Homo sapiens: one gene and its partner. The protein of the gene in region 2 interacts with the protein of the main gene of each other region in a pairwise test. Each region holds a gene or a part of one and is shown on either strand. Other genes may lie near its edges.

Region 1 (3,750 bases), on a different chromosome or scaffold from region 2:
AATAACATATTTAAACAGTCTATTCAAGTCCAAGAGAAATTGAGCATTTACTCTCATTTCATAGTTTGTTAGGAAAGTTTGTAATGAGGGATTTGCAAGTGAACATGGTATGGTGGAAAAAGTGATGAGGATTTTTGAGCAAATTTTCTGCATGTTAGTGCTCTTATTGATTATATACTTATTGGATATTTGAAAGAAAAAGAAGTAAAGCATAAAGCTTGGGTTTATTTAATGCCCTCAGAAGGCTAGGTTGAGGAAAATAATAAAGAAATTTTCCGAGCTACTACCGTTTTGGAGTTAAAACAGATCATGGAGCCTCCATTAACACACAAGATACTTTCTTACTGCTTTAATAAAATAAATGATAAGATTCTGTTAAAACAAACAGAATATAGTTTAATCTACGTGACACCATCATTCTGGTTGGCATAGTAAAACTGATGAATGACTAACAGTACCTACAATTACGCTCTTTTGTACCAATAAAATTTATTTAAGGCTGGGCATGGTGGCTCATGCCTGTACCAGCACTTTGCCAGGCGGAGGTGGGAGGATCACTTGAGGTCAGGAGTTAGAGACCAGCCTGGCCAACAAAGCGAGACCCTGGTCTCTACCCCCCTCCCCCAAAAAAAATGCTGGGCATGGTGGTATGTGACTGTAGTCCCAGCTACTCAGGAGGCTGAGGCAGGATTGCTTGAGCCAGGAGTTGCAGTCTGCAGTGAGCTATGATGGTGCCACTGCACTCCAGCCTGGGTGACAAATTTATTTAATTGGTTTTGGTTTGATTTTGTATTATTATTACTAAAACTCCAGAAAACTTTTACAGCAAAAAAAAAAAACAACAAAAAACAAAAACAAGAAAGAAAGAAAAGGAAAGGAGGATGGGAGAAAGGCAGGAAGGGAGGGAGGAAGGTAGGAAAAGAGGAAGGGAGGGAGGAAAGAAGGCAAGCACGCAGGCAGATGCCTAAATAAAGAATACATAGGGGCCTGGACAAATAAATTGCTTTATGGACTGTTATGCACCCATACAATAAGTTAGACTTACATGATGAGTAAAGCTTTTTAGGATACATGAAGTGAAAACGTTAAAATAAGCGGGGGAGAAAAGGCTAAATATAAAATAATGCCATTGTGTGTGTGAGAGAGGATCACAATGATATACAAATTCCAGGCTAACGGTGACAGTGGCTGCCTCGGGGAGTGGGACTAAGGAGGGGTAGGTGGGGTTTGACATTTTACTTTATTAATTTTGGTATTGTCTGAGGGTTTTTAAACCATAAATAATGTATTAATTTTAAAAATGCTTTTAAAAATCATCATTTTCAATAGTTAACGGTCTATGCTTCATCAACGTTTTCCGTTTAAAACCTGTGTGCGGCCCACACACGTATGACATTCTGATTATGTGATTCACTGCTGAAAAAGAACTGGACGCCAGGAAATTGGGGGTTGAGTCCGAAGCAAGGTGAACGCCGGACATCGAGACATGGAATCCTAGACCGGCCCGGAAGTGCCTCTGCTCCGTCCGCCTTCGAGGAGAGGTCGGCATCTTTGTTCCCTGCCCGGCCATTGTTCGTGCCGCGCTTCTAGCAACGCCGGGCCGGTAACCCCCTCTCCCTCCTTGCGCGTTCCGGGTCTCGTGAGTTGGCTGTGGGGACCGGGAATGGAGGCGGGTCAGGGAGGGTGGGGCTGGAAAAGGGGTGTGGAAAGTGAACCTCAGCCGCTGGGAAGTGGGAGCCGGAGGAGGGGGCGGCGGTCAGTGCCGGGCGGCTTCGGGCGTCCCCTAGACCAGAGTGGTCATCCCCAGCTGTGGGGACATTGTACAAGAAAGGGTTGTAGGAGGACTGCGAGGCTGAAGGGTCACCTCGGTGAATAACGACAACAGGCTTAGGACTCAGGGAAAGAAACACCCGGGAGAGGAAGTTAAGGACAATTAAGACTTTGGCAGCCTTCACGATGGAGAACCTGTATACCCTCTTACCTCTAGATTCTGAAAGCAAATTAAGGGGCGTTGAATGGACTGGTTTTCAAGCGCAGAATGTAGCAGTTCCCGATTCCCTTTTCCTTAGTTCATTGATTCTCAAACCTTATAATACATACAAATCACTGAGGAGCCCGTTAAAGGGCATATTCTGGGTCTCCCTGTACTTCTCTCCACCTCCCAATTCAGATTCCCCAGATGTCTGCCATAGGGCCTTTCAAGCTGGAATTCAGCTGCTGCGCTGTGCTTCCTGGCATTTTGGAGACACACATTTTGGGAACACCCCCATGGGTTTCAGGTGCTTCCTGCGTCTGTGGAGAAAACTTTTCCCTTGGGCTTCTTTGGCTTCTTAGGATTGTCCTCAAAAAGAAGTTGACCTTGGGCAATCTACTTAACTTTCCCTGGCTTCCATTTCTTATCTAGTGAAATAATTATTATAATAAAACCTCAGTGGGTAATTGTGAGGATGAAATATAGTCTTGTATCTGAAAGCATATTGTAGACTTGTGCAGTGTTGACTGTTATTCTTCAGTAGCAGCAGGGCGGTGTGGAAAGCTCCAGGACTTGGAATCCACCTAAGCCTTTCTTTCTGTAAATTTAGTGAAAATAATACTAACCTTAAATGGTTGTTTTGAAGATTAAGAAAACTGAAGTAAATAGTAAAGTAAATGTTGGTTCGTTCATTTAGTCGACAGTAACAATATTTCCATTTATTCTTTCTCTAAGTTGATGTTTATACAGTGAGTTCAAACTTTTTATTCAGACTTTCTGAGTGATCGGTGCAGTCCCTAATTCATGGGCTGTTTTCCTCCATGAACTCTGTGAAGCATTATTGCTATTTCTTCTTCACATAAAGAAATCAAGATTGAAAGAAGATTTAAAAACTTGGCACAAGGTCACACAACTAGTAAATATTAGGATCAGAATAAAACCTAGGTCTGGGTCAGCTGTGGTGGCTGACGTAATCCCAGCACTTTGGGAAGCCAAGGTGGGAGGATCACTTAAACCCAGGAGTTTGAGGTTGCAGTGAGCTGTGATTATGCCACTGCACTCCAGCCTGGGAAACAGAGTGAAATTCCCCATTTAAAAAAAAAAGAAAGAAAGAAAACCCATATCTGGGTAACTTAAAAGCTTATGCTCTTAGCACATTATGAATATATATATTTCCATTATTTCCATCCTTTGGTCACCAAATCACTTTTCAGAGAAGAGCTTTAGGGCCTATGATAATTGCTTGTATTATCAGTTTCTGTCATCAGCTATTATCATTTTTCTATATAAATAATTTATTTTTACTGCTTAGGCAAGCGCCTCCAAGGTTTGTCTTGAAGCATAGCTCCAGCTGGAGGGTACCTTTTAAGCTGTTCAAGGTCAAGATGAATACAAACTCAAAGGAGGTTTTATCCCTGGGTGTTCAAGTTCCCGAGGCATGGGAAGAACTTCTGACAATGAAAGTGGAAGCAAAAAGTCACCTTCAATGGCAGGAATCCAGACTGAAACGCAGTAATCCACTGGCAAGGGAAATCTTCCGAAGGCACTTTCGACAGCTGTGCTACCAAGAGACCCCTGGACCAAGGGAGGCTCTTACTCGACTCCAGGAACTTTGCTACCAGTGGTTGAGGCCACATGTGAGCACAAAGGAGCAGATTTTGGATCTGCTGGTGCTGGAGCAGTTTCTATCCATTCTGCCCAAGGAGCTCCAGGGCTGGGTGAGGGAACACTGTCCAGAGAGTGGAGAAGAGGCTGTGATTTTGCTGGAGGATCTGGAG
Region 2 (3,750 bases):
GGGACCCCAGCTGCAGGCTAAATCCAAGCAGCCAGGCGCTCCCATTTCTCGGGGTGATAAACCAAGTCCACCCTTCAGACAGAGGCTCCTGGAAGGGCCAGTGGGGGTCATCAAAATGCCTCCCTGGAAAAGAAACACGGAGAACACAAAATCTAGGGGCCCGTTTTCCTGGAATGAGATTAGTCTCTTGCCCACTACCAGCCAGTCCACTGCAGGAGGTTGGGGGGTTGGGGGATGCTGCGGATGCCGAGGGCGGAGGCTTAGGGTCCTGGGAGTGGGTTAAATACCAGCTATACCAGGGACACTGGAGTAACCTCTGATAGGCACCGGAAATGTTGAGTCTTAGTTTCTTCCTCTGGAAAATGGATAGAATCATCGCTGTCTCATCTGATATGTTGTTATAAAACAATTCCTGAGATGTAGTCTTTAGTTTTTAAAAGAGCACGCTGGGCAAAGGTGGAGAGTCAGTTCCTGTTTGTGTTAAAAATGTGGCCGAGTGCAGTGGCTCATGCCTGTAATCCTGACACTTTGGGAGGCCAAGGAAGGCAGATCACTTGAGTCCAGGAGTCTGAGACCAGCCTGGCCAACATGGCGACACCTGGTCTCTAAAAAAATACAAAATATTAGCTGGACACATGCCTGTGGCCCAGCTACTTAGGAGGCTGAGGTGGGAGGATCACTTGAGCCCCGCGAGGGCGGGGGTCTCAGTGAGTTGAGATTGTGCCACTGCACTCCAGCCTGGGTAACAGAGCAAGACCCTGTCTCCAAAAAAAAAAAACAAAAAAAAAACAAAAAAAAAACAAAACAAACAAACAAACAAAAACAAACCAAAAAAACGTGCTTAGATCCAGAGAGAAAAATTCTGAAAGGATACCTAAAAAAGTGTTCACAATAGATCAATAGATGCCTCTGGATAGGAAAGGCTCTTTTGTATTATTTGATTTTAAAAATCAATTATGTGTACCATGTTTTTACTAACATATTTTCAATCAATTCATTTCATCCACTTATTAAAATGTAGTTACTAATTTTTAGGGGAGAAAGCAAAAAGGAAAGACAAGGAATCTCTGTGTTTCAGGAGTTGTGAGAGAGCCGCAGGGTCCTGACTCACTCAGAGCTGCCTGTCTCCGAGGCCGATCTGGGATGAAGCAGCCTGGGGCTCTCTTGTCATGGGACCAGGGGTGTTCTGAGGGCTTCTGGCTGGGAGGCTGAGATGGAACGGACACCACACCCTGGTCCTGCCACCCCACATGGCTCCTGCACACTACACCAGGCCAGGCTAGGAGGGCAATTGACACACATCCGCTCCCCAGTAGAGGACCCGGAACCAGAACTGGAATCCGCCCTTACCGCTTGCTGCCAAAACAGTGGGGGCTGAACTGACCTCTCCCCTTTGGGAGAGAAAAACTGTCTGGGAGCTTGACAAAGGCATGCAGGAGAGAACAGGAGCAGCCACAGCCAGGAGGGAGAGCCTTCCCCAAGCAAACAATCCAGAGCAGCTGTGCAAACAACGGTGCATAAATGAGGCCTCCTGGACCATGAAGCGAGTCCTGAGCTGCGTCCCGGAGCCCACGGTGGTCATGGCTGCCAGAGCGCTCTGCATGCTGGGGCTGGTCCTGGCCTTGCTGTCCTCCAGCTCTGCTGAGGAGTACGTGGGCCTGTGTGAGTACTGCCCTGACTGCCCCGGTGGCAGGGTGGGCGTGAAGGGAAGGGATCCAGGATAAGGGGGGATTCTGCATTCATTTAATAATGGCCACCTGTCACATATACACTTTTTCCTGCGCTAGCCCTTTGAAGTGGGTCTTTATTGTCCCCATTTCACAGACAAGGAAACCGAGGCTCAGAGAAAGTTAACAACTTATCCAAGGCAGCCCTGCCCAGTCTGTGTTGAAATCAGGGTTTGAGCCTGAGCCCATCCCCTATGACCCCATAGCCATCTTTGCTGGAGATTTCTAAATTACAATATAGGTCTTTATGCATTGTTCCACATTTACAAAGAAAAAGGAAAGATGCAGGAGAAAAACCCTGACTTCAGAACACTGTCAATACCGGCAGGCACAAGGTTCATTTAGCCATTGCATAGCAACCCTGCCATGGGGTGTGGCTGCTCCATTAACCCAAGTTTGAAGGAATGAGGGCATGGCTTTTATCTGGGTGTCTTCTGAGCAGGGTCAAAGGCAGTGGTTCCCGAACTTGCAGCCCATTAGAATCACCTGGAGAGCTTTAAAAATCCTAATGCTTGGGGCACACCAGTTACATCAGGGCATCTCCAGGCAAGATCCAGGCCTCAGCTGTTTTGTTTTGAGATAGCCTTGCTTTGTCACTCACTGCTGGAGTGCAGTGGCACAATCTCAGCTCACTGCAACCTCCGCCTCCTGGGTTCAAGCAATTCTTGTGCCTCGGCTTCAAGTAGCTGGGATTACAGGCATGCACCACCATGCCCAGCTAATTTTTTGGATTTTTAGTAGAGATGGAGTTTCGCTATGTTGGCCAAGCTGGTCTCAAACTCCTGGCCTCAAGTGATCCTCCTGCCTTGGCCTCCCAAAGTGCTGGAATTACAGGTGTAAGCCACCATGCCCAGCCAACGTCAGTCATTTTTAAAGCTCTGCAGCTGATTCCAGTGTGAGCGAAGTTTGGATGCCAGGAGGATAAGCAATTACGGACTGGGAGCAAGAGAAGGGAATGTAAGACACTGCACGTGATTGCCATTTTCCTAAGGAAATACTCAGTTCGTTAATGAAACGCAGTGAACTTCTGCTGCACATACAGACATAGAGGCTTGCCTGAAACATGAAAATATTGGGGACTGAAGGATGTCCCGGGAGGGTGGGACATGCTCAACAATTCAGGAAGGGGAGATGCAGAAAAAAGTGAAAAGCAGGCAGCATGCGTTGCAATGATCTCTATGGCGTGTGCCTCTCCTGTCACGGTTTTCATTTAAAACAAAGGGGCAAGGTTTTGTTGGTCAAACAATGAAGGGTAACTTTGTTTCTGGGTTCAAGGGACCCCAGATTCCCCAGGGGTTCCTGCCAGCTGGAAGGTACCCAGGTCCGTATGTGACTTCCCGAGAAGGTGATAAGAGCGTGCCAAGGAGAAAGACACTTAGGCAAATGGCCAGAGTCCCCGAGCTGAGCATTTAACAGACTGCCTCTCTTTAAATATTCACAGGGAAAGTGCATCTTCCTAAGGGCGAGGGTTTCAGCAGTGGTTGAACTCGGCGGGGTGGGGCGGAGCGGGAGGATGCAAACTTGCAAAGTGAAGCAAACACACTCACCGCAGCCCAGCAAGGGCTCTGGCAGCTGACAGGGCTTTGTCTGGGACAGCTGCAAACCAGTGTGCCGTGCCAGCCAAGGACAGGGTGGACTGCGGCTACCCCCATGTCACCCCCAAGGAGTGCAACAACCGGGGCTGCTGCTTTGACTCCAGGATCCCTGGAGTGCCTTGGTGTTTCAAGCCCCTGCAGGAAGCAGGTAAGGCCCCAGTGGCATCGTGGTCTGGGCCCAGCCCCATAAGGCAGGGGGTCTCAGGGCCTCCCTGTCCTTTCTGGGCTGGAGATGGAGGCACAAGGACCCCAGGAAGCCACACACACACACCTGTTCCAAGGCCTCAGAGCAGAGGCTTCACACTTAGGGCAGCCATGGCCAGGGGCTGTCCTCTTCTGTCCCCTTTATGTAAAACATAAAAGCAATTGTTTCAAAAAGGTGTTCAAAATGATGGCATCGCATAGAGGGAACTGATTTAGTAACTATT

The links.
Region 1: the proteins of TFF3 (region 2) and ZSCAN9 interact in a two-hybrid assay, tested with the Homo sapiens proteins (one study listed by BioGRID).

Annotation. Positions count from the first base shown.
Region 1 is NC_000006.12:28,223,728-28,227,477, forward strand, and holds the start of ZSCAN9 (zinc finger and SCAN domain-containing protein 9), read left to right. Parts: upstream 1-1,547; 5' UTR 1,548-1,639; exon of another isoform or gene 1,640-1,956; coding exon of another isoform or gene 1,957-2,279; exon of another isoform or gene 2,280-3,204; coding exon of another isoform or gene 3,205-3,357; coding exon 3,358-3,750. UniProt on the Homo sapiens protein: May be involved in transcriptional regulation.
Region 2 is NC_000021.9:42,313,205-42,316,954, reverse strand, and holds the start of TFF3 (trefoil factor 3 precursor), read left to right. Parts: upstream 1-1,545; 5' UTR 1,546-1,580; coding exon 1,581-1,662; intron 1,663-3,323; coding exon 3,324-3,470; intron 3,471-3,750. UniProt on the Homo sapiens protein: Involved in the maintenance and repair of the intestinal mucosa. Promotes the mobility of epithelial cells in healing processes (motogen).